Linked DNA regions of Homo sapiens. The protein of the gene in region 1 interacts with the protein of each later gene in a pairwise test. Each region holds a gene or a part of one and is shown on either strand. Other genes may lie near its edges.

Evidence for each region. Proteins that work in one complex are often made in the same cells at the same time.
Region 2: the proteins of MEF2B (region 1) and CABIN1 interact in binary tests that used the Homo sapiens proteins (3 or more experiments, as listed by UniProt).

What each region holds. Positions count from the first base shown.
Region 1 is NC_000019.10:19,167,260-19,174,983, reverse strand, and holds the start of MEF2B (myocyte-specific enhancer factor 2B), read left to right. Parts: upstream 1-4,720; 5' UTR 4,721-4,779; intron 4,780-7,724. UniProt on the Homo sapiens protein: Transcriptional activator which binds specifically to the MEF2 element, 5'-YTA[AT](4)TAR-3', found in numerous muscle-specific genes. Activates transcription via this element. May be involved in muscle-specific and/or growth factor-related transcription.
Region 2 is NC_000022.11:24,161,304-24,168,327, forward strand, and holds part of CABIN1 (calcineurin-binding protein cabin-1), read left to right. Parts: intron 1-3,096; coding exon 3,097-3,260; intron 3,261-4,226; coding exon 4,227-4,323; intron 4,324-5,335; coding exon 5,336-6,010; intron 6,011-7,024. UniProt on the Homo sapiens protein: May be required for replication-independent chromatin assembly. May serve as a negative regulator of T-cell receptor (TCR) signaling via inhibition of calcineurin. Inhibition of activated calcineurin is dependent on both PKC and calcium signals.

The DNA of each region.
Region 1 (7,724 bases):
TAGCATTTACTGGCCAGGCGCGGGGGCTCACACCTGTAATCCCAGCGCTTTCGGAGGCCGAGGTGGGCGGATCACTTGACGTCAGGAGTTGGAGACCAGCCTGGCCAACATGATGAAACCTCGTCTCTACTGAAAATACAAAAATTAGCTGGGTGTGGTGCATGCCTGTAATCCCCAGCTACTCTGGAGGCTGAGGCAGGAGAATCGCTTGAGCCCGGGAGGTGGAGGTTGCAGTGAGCCGAGATCACGCCACTGCACTCCAGCGTGGGCGACAGAGGTAGACTCCATTTCAAAAAACACCCAGCTGGGCATGGTGGGTCACGCCTGTAATCCCAGCACTTTGGGAGCCCGAGGCGGGTGGATTACGAGGTCAGGAGATTGAGACCGTCGTGGCCAACATGGTGAAACCCCATCTCTACTAAAAATACAAAAATTAGCTGGCTGTGGTGAGCACCTGTAATCCTAGCTACTCGGGAGGCTGAGGCAGCAGAATGACTTGAACCCGGGAGGTGGAGATTGCAGTGAGCCGAGATTGCGCCACTGCACTCCAGCCTGGCGACAGAGCCAGACTCCGTCTCAAAAAAAAAAAAAAAAAAAATTTAACTCCCGGCAGAACTCCAGAGATAGGCAGCTAGAAGAGAGACAGTGAGCTCTCCGTGCCATGGGGCATCCAAACAGAAGCATAGTGCTCACGAGGCTGGAGATCACCCAGAAAGGATCCCAACCCTGATCTGCAGATGGGGTAAAAGGAGACCCATACAGGGCAGCGACCTGCCCCCTGCTCCGTCCACAGTGGTCAGGACAAGAATCAGACTTCCGCTGGGTTTTTGTCCTTAGCCATTGGTGTGAGTCCTGGTTTTTATTTCAGACCTACTCCTCTGGGTTCCCGGAGAGTCCTGCACACTCAGGCCCCTGGAAAGCCTTTTTTTTTTTTTTTCTTTTCCCTACAGTATCCCTGAACAAGGCTTCTGGGTGCCCCAGGCTTATCCCCCACTCCCTTTCACTGCTTAGACCTTCTTTGAGATTCTCCAGTTCTTCAAGAAACCCATGGAGGCTGTGCGCAATGGCTCATATCCATAATCCTAGCTCTTTTGGAGGCCAAGGCAGGAGGATCGCTTAAGCCCAGGAGTTCGAGACCAGCCTGGGCAACAAGCGAGACACCCAGTGCACCTCAAAAAAAAATTTAAAAATTAGCCAGGTGTGGTAGTGCATTCCTATAGTCCCAGCTACTTGGTAGATGGAAGCGAGAGGATCACTTGAGCCCAGGAGTTCAAGGCTGCAGTGAGCCATGATTGTACCACTGCACTCCAGCCTGGGCAACAGAGCAACTCTGTCTCTAAAAAATGAAAAGAAAGAAACCCGTGGAGACACCCCTTTGGTGCCACCATGCACTGGGCCCGGGCCCAAGGAACCCCCAGGCTGGGGGACACAGAACCAGCCACATACTCTACCCCGCCCCCTGGATCAGTGCTAAGCTGGAAGGAAGGGTGGGGAGGTGGAAGGATCCTAAGTGGTAAGAGGATAGGAAGGCTTTTGGAGGAGGGAACATTGGAGGTGGGCCTTAAGGGCTCCTATTATCCCCACTTCTTCTTTTTTTTTTTTTTTTTTTCTTTTTTGAGACAGAGTCTTGCTCTTGTCACCCAGGCTGGAGTACAGTGGCGTGATCTTGGCTCACTGCAACCTCCACCTCCCGGGTTCAAGCAATTCTCCTGCCTCAGCCTCCTGAGTAGCTGGGATTACAGGTGTGTGCCACCATGCCTGGCTTTTTTTTTTTTCTTTTTTTTTTCGAGACAGAGTCTCGCTCTGTCGCCCAGGTTGGAGTGCAGTGGCACGATCTTGGCTCACTGCAAGCTCCGCCTCCCAGGTTCACGCCATTCTCCTGCCTCAGCCTCCCGAGTAGCTGGGACTACAGGCGCCTGCCACCACGCCTGGCTAATTTTTTGTATTTTCAGTAGAGACGGGGTTTCACCGTGTTAGTGAGGATGGTCTCGATCTCCTGACCTCGGGATCCACCCACCTCGGCCTCCCAAAGTGCTGGGATTACAGGCGTGAGCCACCGCGCCCAGCCTATCCACACTTCTCATATGAGCAAAGAGGCCCCAAGGGGTGCAGTGACCATCCTGAGGTCACACAGTGAGTGGGCGGCACAGCTGGGATGGGGACTCAGGGTTCTTTAACCTCAGGGCCCTCCCTACCTACTGGGTCACACATCCTTATCATGGAAGGTCCTTCAAAGCCTTCTCCTGGGAGAGGGGAGAGAATCTGGAGGAGGGAGACAGCGGGGGCAGCTTCTCCACCTCCCCCAGCCTCCCACCCTAGCCTTCTCCTCCATCCCCCACCCACCACCTCCCCCATCTCCCAGACCTGCTTCCCAGGTCACTCTTCTCCCTCACCACCCACTCTGGACCCTTCTATCCCTTCCTCCTCACAACCTTCCCTTCTACCTTCCAACCTCTTACTCTAGCAACTAAGGGTGTCCCTTCATCTGAGAAGAATGAGGTTAAGACTCTTGGTGGCCCTGCTAGGGGACACAATTAGTGGTTGGGGAAGGTATAGGATAGGAACAGAGGCAAAAGGACACGGGACAGACCATGAATAACAAGATGGTGCCCACCAGAAGGAGGGGGCTGGGGAGTTGGGGTGCATAAGGGCCAGCCCCAGCCAGCTTCGCTCTGCTGGGCTAGCCCTTCCCCCAGAGCTGGCCCAGCTGCCGGCCTCACGTAACCAGAGCCTGCCTGTTGCATCAGAGGTGGGCGGGTGGCCTCCGGTAAACAGAGCAGCCCTCCGGGGGCCCAGGGCTCCCCAGCCACCTCCACACTCCCCAAGCCTTGTTCTGCACCATGGAGTGGAGGCAGAAGCCCCCAGCCTGGCCCAGGCCCTGGCATGTCCTTGGGGCACCCCAGTGTATGGCACTGGGCACTGGATGGGGACAGGAGGGACCCACTGATGACACAGTATGAACTCTATAGTTTTCATGTCCAAAGAGAAAGTTGTGCTCAGACTAGAGGCCCACACTGCCCATGTCACAGACGGGTAAACTGAGGTGTGGGGAGAGACACAAGCCTCCCAGGCCCCCTGTTCCCTGTCTCAGTGTCCCCCACACTCCAGCATCTGCCACATGCCTCCCCCTGAGTTTGGGGGACCAGCCCCTCTCTTCTCTGGAGGAGATGGACACCAGGCAGCTTTGCAGCCCCATTGCTCTCCACCTGTATCTGCCCCTCCTCTTCACCCCCTGCCCGCTATACTGGCTTCACCTTCCTCATCTTCCCCGGCCAGAGAATGTTCTATGCTCTTCCTCTGCACTTTTGCAAGTGCTTTTCCCTCTTGAAAAAGCCCTTCTCGGGTCTTGTGTAGTGGCTCACACCTGTAATCTCAGCACCTTGGGAGGCCGAGGAGGAAGGATCTCTTAAGCCCAGGAGTTTGGGACCAGCCTGGGCAACATAGTGAGACATCCTCTCTTAAAAAAAACAAAATTAGCTGGACCTGGTGGTGGCCTGCCTGTAGTCCCAGCTGCTGGGGAGGCTAAGTTGGGAGGATTGCTTGAGCCTAGGAGGTCGAGGCTGCAGTGAGCTATGATCATGCCACTGCACTCCAGCCTGGGCAACACAGTGAGATCCTGCCTTGAAGAAAAAAACAAGAAAAACCTTTCTCCTAGTGGCAAACTCCTACACATACTTGAAAGCCCAGCACAAATGCCCTCTCTTCTGAGAAACCCTCCCTGACTCCTCTGGCACAGCCCTTGCCCCAATTCTGGCCTGTCCCAGCCTCCCATCCCTCCTCTGGCCCAAGCCTGACCCCACAGGGTTAGGGGAGTGCATGGATCCCCTGCCTGCCCCAGACGGGCCGGGGGCTTCTCCAGAAGTGCCCATCCCAGAGCCATCTTTATCCTGTAATTCTTTTCACATTGATACATTCACCAACCCCTGCTCTGATCTTCCTGTGGGTCTGGCCTGTGCTGGGATCCCAGGGGAAGGGGTGGATTTAGAGTTCTGGGCTGGGGTCCAATCCTGGAAGGCCCCTCACAGCTGACCTTTGAAGTTTAGAAAACAGCCTTTAGCGGGGAGAGGTAAGGAGAGGGAAGTGGTTGGTGGAAGCAGTGTGGTTGTCTTGGACTGTGGAGGGGCAGGCGGTGCGGGCTTGAGGGACCAGTAGCTGCGGAGGGTCTGTCACTCCCTGTGGGAGCACATATCTGGCCCCAGGAGGCACAGTTGAGTGAGGCCACACAGGCCACCCGAGAGCCCCGTCTTGCAGTCTTTCCATTCTAGCGAGCGCGAGGGTCAGCGTTGCCTGCGAGAAGGGCTTGGTTCCTCGGGGCGACGGGGTCCGGGATCGGAGTCTATTTCACTCAGGATGGAATCAATCCAGGCAAGTTGGGCCGAGTTAGGAAAAGGTTTAGAATTAGGGTTAGGGTCACAGTAGGGTCAGGGGTCGGCAGTAAGGTCAAGGGCGCCCAGTGAGGGCGGGGAAAGCCTGGCCAGTCTGATCCAGCCCCCTCCCTCCGTTCTGCTTCTTCCTTATCCGCGCCCCCACCCATGGCGCCCCAGCATCCTTTCGCGTCTGAGTCCCAGGCCCATGAACTCCCGGGTCGGGGCCACGCCCAAGTGCACGCCCATCGCCGCCTCCAGGGTGACGCCCTGTATGCAAATAAGCCCGTCCCGCCCAATCAGCTCCCGGGGGCAGGACCGCCCGCTCCCAAGGCACCTGCGGCCGCGGGCCCCTGATCTTCGTGCAGCCGCCGCGGGTCCGTGCGCCCAGCGTCCCAGGGCCCAGGCCGAGCAGGTGCGTGTCATATCGGGTTGAGACTCCTGTGGTGTCCTCTGAACGGCTTCTGCGGGCTGGGTGGGTTTTGGAGGTCCGGGTGTACTGCTGGGCGTCCCAGGGTGGGGTGTGTGTCTAAAGGGGTGTGTGTCGTGGGGTGGTGAGTCCCCGAGGTTGTGGCAGGAGGGGGTTGTGTCTCCAAGGGGTGTGTGTCTGAAGGGTGTGGGTCTGGAAGTTGTGTGTCCAAGGGCTCTGCGTCTGAGATTTGGTGTGAGTTGGGGAGTTGGAGAGTTAGCTGTGTGTCCAAAATCATGGTGCTGTGAGGCCCTATTATGTGTCTGTGAGCTCTGTGATGTGGCATGTGATGTCCCTCTCTCCTGGTGTGCACTCCTTTAGCATTAGCGCATCCCCTGTGCACAACCCTATGCCTTCTTGCTGTGGGTGTACACTCGTTTGTCACAGCAGGATGGTAGGCACAAAACCTTGGAACGGGGGAGCAACAGCTGCCGGGGCCAACTCTCCTCCCTTTGCCTCAATGGGTACAGGAACAAGAGTCACATCCCCGTGTGGTTGTTAGCACATGACAAGGTGGTGGCAGCATTACTTTCACGGTCACAGTCCTCCCTCCCTATCTCTTTTGGGGTCCAGGGCTGCAGATATGGGTGACCTGTGTCCTTGGCCACCCTAACCCCTAGTTGCAGACCCAATTAGTCAGAAATAGCTGGCCGGGCACTGTGGCTCATGCCTGTAATCCCAGCACTTTGGAGGCTGAGGCAGGAGGATCACTTGAGCCCAGTAGTTTGAGACCAGCCTGGGCAACATAGTGAGACCCCCATTTTCTTTTTCTTTTCTTTTCTTTCTTTGTTTTTTTTTTGAGACAGGGTCTCATCCTGTCGCCCAGGCTGGAGTACAGTGGTGATCTTTGTTCACTGCAACCTCCAGCTCCCAGGCTCAAACAATTCTCCTCCCTCAGCCTTCTAAGTAGCTGGGATTACAGGCGCGTGCCACTACCGCCTGGCTAGTTTTTGTATTTTTAGTAGAGATGGGCTTTCACCATGTTGGCCAGGCTGGTCTTGAACTCCAGACCTCAAATGATTCACCTGCCTCAACCTCCCAAAGTGCTGGGATTACAGGCGTGAGCCCCTGCACCTGGCTTTAAAAAAAAATTTTTTTTGAGACAGAGTCTCACTCTGTCACCCAGGCTGGAGCGCAGTGGCTCAATCTTGGCTCACTGCAACCTCTGCCTCCCAGGTTCAAGTGATTGATTTTCTGCCTCAGCCTCCCGAGTATCTGGGACTACAAGCGTGTGCCACCATGACCAGCTAATTTTTGCATTTTTTGTAGAGACGTTGTTTCACCATGTTTGCCAGGCTGGTCTCATGTGATCTGCCTGCCTCAGCCTCCCAAAGTGCTAGGATTACAAGAGTAAGCCACCGCATCTGGCCAAAAAAAATTGTTTTTTTAATTAGGCAGGTGTGGTGGCTTATGTGTATAGTCCCAGCTACTCGGGAGGCTGAGGCAGGAGGATCACTTGATCCGAGGAGTTCGAGTCTGCAGTGAGCTATGACTGAGCTACTGCACTGCAGCCTGGGTGACAGAGCAAGATCCTGTCTCTAAAAGAAAAACAAAAAGAAAGAAAAGAAACAAAAAAATGGCCAGGCGCGGTGGCTCACACCTGTAATCCAAGCACTTTGGGAGGCTGAGGCGGGCGGATCACCTGAGGTCAGGAGTTCGAGACCAGCCTGACCAACATGGAGAAACCCCATCTCTACTAAAAATACAAAATTAGCCGGCCATGATGGTACATGCTTGTAATCCCAGCGACTCAGGAGGCTGAGGCAGGAGAATCGCTTGAACCCAGGAGGCGGAGGTTGTGGTGAGCGAAGATCGTGTCATTGCACTCCAGCCTGGGCAACAAGAGTGAAACTCCATCTCAAAAAAAAAAAAAAAAAAAAAAGAAGAAAGAAACAAAACAATAATCAAGGCCTCAGGCTAGCCTGGCCAAGAATCATCCCTGGGGAAGGGCAGGGCCCCTGGACCTTGGGCATTCGGGACAAGAACTCTCAGACTCTTGGAGTGAAGGAAACTGGATACAAAAAAGTATTTCGACTTCGGAGAACCAGTGTGTGAGGACTGATTTCCAGAGATGAAAAGGGCTTTCTAAAAAGGCAGGCTTGTTCCCTCATGTCCCCTTCCTGTTGTTCAGTAAAGGGGGAAGCTTGGCCTCCAGCAAACAGAATTTCAGGACAGTTAGGATCTTGGGATGTCATCTTAGAGAGCAGGAAGCTGGTTTGCAGGAGGGAAGGCTGAGGCCAGGTAGTAACACTAGGCCCCTCAAAAAAGGATGGAGCTCAAGGCCATGCCTCAGTCCCCCAAGAGAACAGAGGCTGGGGTCACGAGGCCCAGCTTCCTCTCCCTCCTCTCTGTGTGACCCCCCAACAGGTGGCTGCCCCTCTCTGAACTTTGTGGCAGCTCCTGTGAGCGGAGCAAGCTGAACCCACTCTTGGCTTTCCCATCCCAACGAATGATTTATTTGGTTAAACTATGACCCAACCAGGTGGACATCTGGAAAATGCAAATTAAGAAGAGAAGGGGAATTTAAAACATTTGCTCACCCCAACTTGGGTGCAGTGAGTGTAGACATGTTGGGTGTTTGGCCTTCTGGAAGAGGTTTCTTTCTTTCTTTCTTTCTTTCTTTGTTTTTGAGACAGCATCTTGCTCTGTTGCCCAGGCTAGAGTAAAGTGGTGTGATCTCAGCTCACTGCAACCTCTGCCTCCTGGGCTCAAGTGATCCTCCTGCCTCAGCCTCCTGAGGAGCTAGGAATACGCGCTCACACCAGCACACCCAGCTAATTTTTTTTTTTTTTTTTTTTTTGAGACAGAGTCTCACTCTGTTGCCCAGGCTGGAGTGCAGTGGCACAATCTCGGCTCACTGCAACCTCCACCTCCCAGGTTCAAGCGATTCT
Region 2 (7,024 bases), on another chromosome or scaffold:
GCCCTCAACTCTATAAGCAAGCATTATCCCAGCCACTGTGGCCATCAGGGAACCCAGCCCTGGTGACACCAGGGCCCAGGAATCAAGTGGGGCAAATCTGAAGACAGCAAGTGTGCCTGTGGAACTGGGAGAGGCGAGGCAAGGGGTACGGCCAGAGCAGCGGGACCCAGGGCTGAGGGAGAACTAGGAGAGGGCCAGAGGAGACCCTCCTCGCGGCGACCCTGCTTCTCTCAGCTGCTACTTATGGCCCCTGCCCATCTATGATCCTGCCTCTGCCTTTCCCTCAGATGCCGTGGGGGTGTTGGCCTGGTGCTGGCTCCCTCCACCTGCCCTCAGCCAGGCCTCTTGGTCACTGCTGCCTATGCCCTTCTTTTCTGGCCCTGACTTAGCTTTATCCAAGCTCACCCCTGGCACATTCTCCACACCCTCCCTGAGGCCCGAACGTGAGTCCCTGGGCTGAATGCAGTGGGGCTTCTGCTGTGGCAGTTGGAACCTGGCCATGCCCCTTCCTCCTGTGTGGGCCGTGGTGAGGAAAACCAGGTGAAGCAGGGGCTGTCCCTTGTACCTGTCCCACTCCAGGAGACCCTCCTCAGCACCTTGGTTCTCTAGGAGCTTCATAGCCCTCCACAGGCCCGGTGTTAGAGGGACAGTGGAGGGAGAGGGCTGCTGTGGCTACTGCCCCTCTGTGGGGAACCGCTGTGTCCAGGTCATCCTGGGGCTGCCAGTATCATCCTTCTCATGGGTCTCTTGCTGCAAACACAGAAGCCCAGCTCCACCTGGTGTAGGCAGAAAGCCAGTTGGCTTGCTACCACCCTGCTGGCTCGTGACTCTGCCTGGTGGCTTCACTCTTCAGACCAGCTTTCTCTGGAGGCCAGCCTCATGGCCATAGGAAGTCCCCTCACCGTTCGGGAGGTATGTCCATCTGCACACCGCCCCAGGCCACAGAGAAGAGGGGTTATTCCTAAAGGCTCTCATTAGGAGGGGAAGCCTGACTGGGATCCTGGGGCCCATCTGCTGGCTGAATTCCCATGGCTGGTGGTGGGTCTTAGGCCTGGCCGAGCAGGCAAGGGGGCCAATCCTGGGGGCAGGGAAAGGACAAGCCCACAACAGAAGGGGCTTCTGGGAATAGTGCCCAGTGCAAGGTAAATAAACATAGGAGCCCCCATACTGGGGCATGTGAATGAAGATACAGTAAAGAGATGAACAAGGGCACACTAGCTGGCCTGACCCTGCCCGGGAAACGTGCCCTTCAGCACACTGTTACCAGAAAAAGGCCAAGCAAGATGCCAGAATGAAACCAGAGCACATGCAAATGTAAAATGCTGCCTTTCAAGCCTCTCAGGGCTGGCTGGGGAAGTTTTGAGAGTCACAATAGCATGGGGGTGGCCAAGCGGGCGGCGGTGTCTATGGTTCCCTTCTGATTTTCCATGGACTCACTGCCTGATTTGTTTGGTCTTCCATCCTTTCTGAAATCAGCAGTGTTATGTTACAAAAGGAAACGGAAAGGAGATAGGGATCCAAACTGTGCTGGTGTGTGTGATGCAAACTAGACCCGTCCTCACGGGTGTGTCTGTTGGTGTCTATGTGCCCTGGGAGGTGCAGGGATGGGAGGGTCTTCAGCGGGACGTACTGCTGCAGCACAGCGGATGGAGACCCAGGAGACAGTGTCTGCCCATTCTGGTGCCTACTGTAGATAGACCCTGTCTGTTGGAAAGCAGGTGTCTTTTCATAAGCTGCTTCAGGATCCACATCTGCATGGTAGGAAGATGCAGCATTGATGTTTGCTGCCCTGGATGTGGATAGCCTCAGTACCCTGGTTTTGTCCTTTTCAGGCACTGCCAGGAAGTAGAAGGTGGCTGCTGGCCTCCACATAGTCCCCCAGCCTGCAGGTGGACCCTCCATGTCACAACAGGAGCCAGTGTAGAGGCCACAGGGTCTCAAGGCTGCGAGTTTTAAACTCCTCTCAGGCCTTAACAGCTCAGGGCTGGAGGTGCCCTGGCTTTCCTCCCAGGGCTGCTAGAGCAGGGTGGGCCCACACCTGTGTACAGATACTGTGGATAATCAGCAAGGACCCACAGGGACAGGGCCCTGAGAGGGGTACCACCTAGACATCCTGCAGTGGTCCCTGTAGCTGGGGGCCCAAGTCCCCAGAATCCTATACTGCAGCATGATGTGGGCCAGGCCCCATGCCAAGGAGAAAGCAATGTCACTCATAACCTTGGTCCATTCTGGGCAGCAGTTTCTTCAGCGTGTTGGCTGCAGGGACCCATCTAGGAGCCAGTTCACTTATTCCAGGCCCCTGAGGTCCCACCCCAGAGATGGGCCTCCTTAATGCCTGTTTCCTCATCACTCACTCCCTGCTTTCCCCACACCCTGCCTGGACCCCGAGTAGGTGTCAGATGCCATGCTGGTCACTAGGACACTGCAGGGAACCAGGCCCTGGAGCTAGTGATAGGTAGGGGGTGCCCAGTGCTGCAGCAGGTAAAGCAAGGACCAAGGGAGATAATGGGGGGTGCTCCCCAAAGTCAACTTTGCCCTGGTTAAGCCTTCAAAGAGGAGTGGGGTAGGATGGCAAGAAGTGGGAAGAGGGAGGGGGACCCCAGGCATCCCAGGAGCTGCAGATGATTCTCTGGGCACTGCTGGAGAGAGTGGGTGAGGGCAGAGCCTAGCCAGAGCTTCCCTGCAGCCTGCTTTGACTCAGCAGTTCCACCTCTAACAAATGGTCTGGTGGCTGGGTAAGCACCTGTGCAGGGAGGTGTACACACTGGGCCTCTCACTGTCTGTCCTCACGTTTGATCAGGCCCCACCTGAGTGCATCCCATAGGGGACAGGTCCAGCAAACATATGAGATGCAGCCATACAAAAGAGGAGGCTGCAGAGCAGTGGGTCTGTCTGTCATTTGCTGCCACTCATGAGAAGGAAGGGGGTGGGGATACACTTCTGTCTCCTTGGGACAGTGAGAGGGGTCCAAGAAGCCCCTGGCTGGGCAGTGTCCCCTTTGGCACTGTGGCAGTTTCCAGGGGATACCAGACAGGGTGTCCCCGAGGCTCCTGCCACAACCACCCCCCTCACACACCTGTGCCATCCATCCCACAGGGCATCTGGCGGATCCCCGTGGACGAGATTGACCGGCCGGGCAGCTTTGCCTGGCACATGAACCGCTCCATCGTGCTGCTGCTCAAGGTGCTGGCCCAGCTGCGGGACCACAGCACCCTGCTGAAGGTGTCCTCCATGCTTCAGCGGACCCCAGACCAGGGCAAGTGAGTGCAGCCACCCTGGACACAGCCTGGCATGCTGTGTGGGTCAGGGGCACACACACCCCAGGAAGCCTCTCCACTGCTCTGGCCCAGCTGTGAGGACCACTGGCTGGGAGCCTGGACCAGCTCTTCATTCTCCTTGGGGGCCTCTCTGTCCCAGTGTCTAGAACCTAAACAACACTTCCCACCCCCAGGCACCCTAGGGCAGACACAGCCTGTCCCCACTGATCCTGGTTCCACGTTGAGACTCTGGACTACCCAGCCTTTCCTTTCCTCCTGCTTCCCCCAACTCAGGGCTCTCGGGGTGCTGTCAGGTTGTAGGGAAAACAGATGTTCAGAAGATAGCTGTGGTTCCCCAGACAAAGGCCAGTAACAGTGGGGTGAGCGACAGGGGTGCCTGGGCCTCAGTGGTAAACAGGGAGCTCTCCGCCAGAAAGGGCAGGACAGATAACAGAGCCATCTGTTACAGCTGCCATTTACAGGGGGTGTTGGGGGGATCCTGGAAGAGACGCAGCTCAGATGTAGATGGGCCTGGCCTGGAGGCCTCACTCCGTCAGCTGGACTGGGCCTCCTCCCATGCCTGCACTGTCTCACCCTCTGGCTGTCTCACTCACCTACCACTTGCCAGGCGATGTGCCAGGAGTTCAGGGGCCTCCAGCTGGGGCCTGGGGCACCCTGGAGCCAGACCTGAGGGAGCAGCTATAGGCTGCTGAGCACAGCACACAGGGTGGGCCCACTGCAGAGGGCCTAAGGGCAACAGGCTGGTGCCGGGTCAGAGGCCTACTGGCTCTGGATAGAGGGAGCTCAGGGGAAGCTTCTAGGGGAGCAGCCCCAAACAGGTGGTTAGGTGGAACACTGAGGAACAAACAGGCATCCTCAAGGCAGGGATGGGCAGTGGCCACCATCCAGCAGTGCCATGTGGTGTCAGATGCCCTCCTGTCCTCTCTGACTACCCCTGTATGACCGCAGGAAGTATCTGCGAGATGCTGACCGCCAGGTCCTGGCGCAGCGGGCCTTCATCCTCACTGTGAAGGTGCTCGAAGACACGCTGAGCGAGCTCGCAGAGGTATGCCACCTGTGTCCTCCTCTCCTCCACGGCCCATGAACACGCTTCCAAGCCCTTCCCAGGTGGTGGGCCCGATCCCTCTATTTGCATACCCTTAGGCAGGATGTGCCTAAGGGTCCCCATCTGTGAGGTAGCACCCATCCTGTCTTCCTAGGCAGGGAAGGTCAGCCGTGGTAATGAATGCACATGAATTCAGTGAGTCATGGATGCACTTGGTGATTAGTAAGAGCCATAGTGACTCCATGAAACTGAGCTCCCCAAGGGCTGCACCACCCAGGGCGGGGTCCCAAGCCCTCTCCCTGGCAGGCTGACCAAGGCCTATGAGAACACCATGTGTGTGCATCGTCCCTTTTCAGCCTTGAGGCAGGTGCAGCAGTACCTCCTTCTCACAGCTGAGCACCTGGAGGAGGCCAGGGAGGTTAAGCAGCCAGCCTACGAGGTGGGGCTGTTGGGAGTTGAGCCAGGACTGCCTCCAAAGCTTATGCCTGGTAGGGCTGGCTGTGGCTTGGTAGAGGGCATCAACTTGAGGCTGTTGGGGAGGAGTCCTTGCCAGCCCCCAACCCCAGGCCTCGTGCATTAAGGGCCAGGAAGACTTGGCTCTGCAGCAAACATGCTTGGTGGCCCTGGGCAGGTCCCCTCCCATAAAATGCCCAGAGCTGCCCGGAGTTCACGTCATGGAGTCAAAGGGGAGCTGGGCAATGCTGCCCCAGCTCAGCCCAGGCCTGTTATTCAGGAGCAGTGCCACCTCCAGAGTCCCGTCAGCCCCTTGCTACCTGGAAGAGTGTGGTGGGGTAGCCAGAGGTGCAGAGGAGGGAAGGCCTTTCTCAGGCAGGTCTCTGGGCCCAGTGTCCTTCTCTGATAACTGAAACACAGCCCTGGCCAGCTGGCAGATGTCCGGAGCCACACAGATGTCAGGTGGGAGAGGCCCAGGTTGGGCTCACCAGCCCCCAGAGGTGACTCATTGCAGTGGAGACACCAGCGACACAGCTTCTTACCTTTGGTTTCTTTGTAGGGGTCAGAACGCCCAGGGCCCAAGGTCTGTGGCCTCCCCGGAGCCAGGATGACCACCGATGTCTCACACAAGGCCAGTCCTGAGGATGGCCAGGAGGGCCTCCCCCAGCCGAAGAAGCCCCCTCTGGCTGATGGCTCAGGGCCAGGGCCCGAGCCAGGAGGCAAAGTGGGCCTCCTCAACCACCGGCCTGTGGCCATGGATGCAGGAGACAGTGCAGACCAAAGCGGGGAGCGGAAGGATAAAGAGAGCCCACGGGCAGGGCCCACTGAGCCCATGGACACGAGTGAGGCCACTGTTTGCCACTCAGACTTGGAGCGGACACCACCCCTGCTGCCAGGTCGCCCCGCAAGGGACCGGGGCCCCGAGAGCCGGCCCACTGAGCTGTCCCTGGAGGAGCTGAGCATCAGTGCCCGGCAGCAGCCCACCCCGCTCACCCCAGCCCAGCCAGCCCCCGCCCCCGCCCCCGCCACCACCACAGGGACCAGGGCAGGGGGCCACCCGGAGGAGCCGCTCTCCCGGCTCAGCCGCAAGAGGAAGCTCCTGGAGGACACAGAGTCAGGCAAGACACTTCTGTTGGATGCCTACCGTGTGTGGCAGCAGGGCCAGAAGGGTGTGGCCTATGACCTGGGCCGTGTGGAGAGGATCATGTCGGAGACCTACATGCTCATCAAGCAGGTGGGTGGCAGGCAGAGGCCTGGGGGCACTAGTCTGCTGGCAGCATCCCCACTCTTGCCTTTCTATCCTCAAGGAGGGTCTCCCAGGCCTGCCCTTGGGGCGGGTTTTAGGTGTTGTTCCCACACCATCCCTGCTGTTCACTTTCTGCAATGAGCTTTAAAAAGTCAATATTCAACCTGGAAGGAAGTGAGAGCCCGTCACAGAAACCTTATCACAACCAGCGCGGGGAGTCTGGACCGCTGCTCCCACCGCTGCGCTGGGCCTCTGGGTACATCTTAGGGCATTTCCTTCAAGACTTCTGTGGCTGTCATCTAAAGATGGCTGCAGTGACCAGAGATCCCCTTGTCATTTTGCCTTCTTTTTTTAAACATTTTATTTTAATGTATCAAGCACTTTCCTTTTTCTCCATTTAAAATTATTCCCATAGGAAGAATCTCCAAAACTTTAGTGACTGGTTCAGATGGGATGACCATCCCTGACATACAGTATTCCCTCTAATCATGTCAGTTTGCAATGCATCCTACCCCCAACTGCCCCATATCATATGGACCTTGGGCACTGAATCCCTAGACACACTTGACACAGCATGGGGCTATCACCATCAGGCCTGGGATTCCGAAAGGCCTCTCCCACTCTAATCATGGCCCTCCATCCTGCCCACTTAAAGGGCAGGTTCTAGCTCAGAAGACTCCCCTCTTCCCCTAGCAACTGAGCCTCAGCTGAATTTGAAGGCTTGGTTGGAGCCCTTGAGTCTGCCTGCCAGCCTCAGCTTGTGAGGATGTAAGTAACTCAGCCATAGAAATGAACTTGGTATAGCCAGATGGGCTCAGAGGAACAGCTGGGTCCAATTCTGGCACCAGTACCTGGTGGTGTGGCACCTGAGCAGGCACCCCCACCTGGGAGATGGATGGGCATCTGCCCCTGCTACCCACGAAGAGCTGGGACGTAGGGGTCTAGATGCGGACAGCAGTGGGGACGGCTGGCTATTCAGCAGAGTCTGGGGTGTTGGGGGGC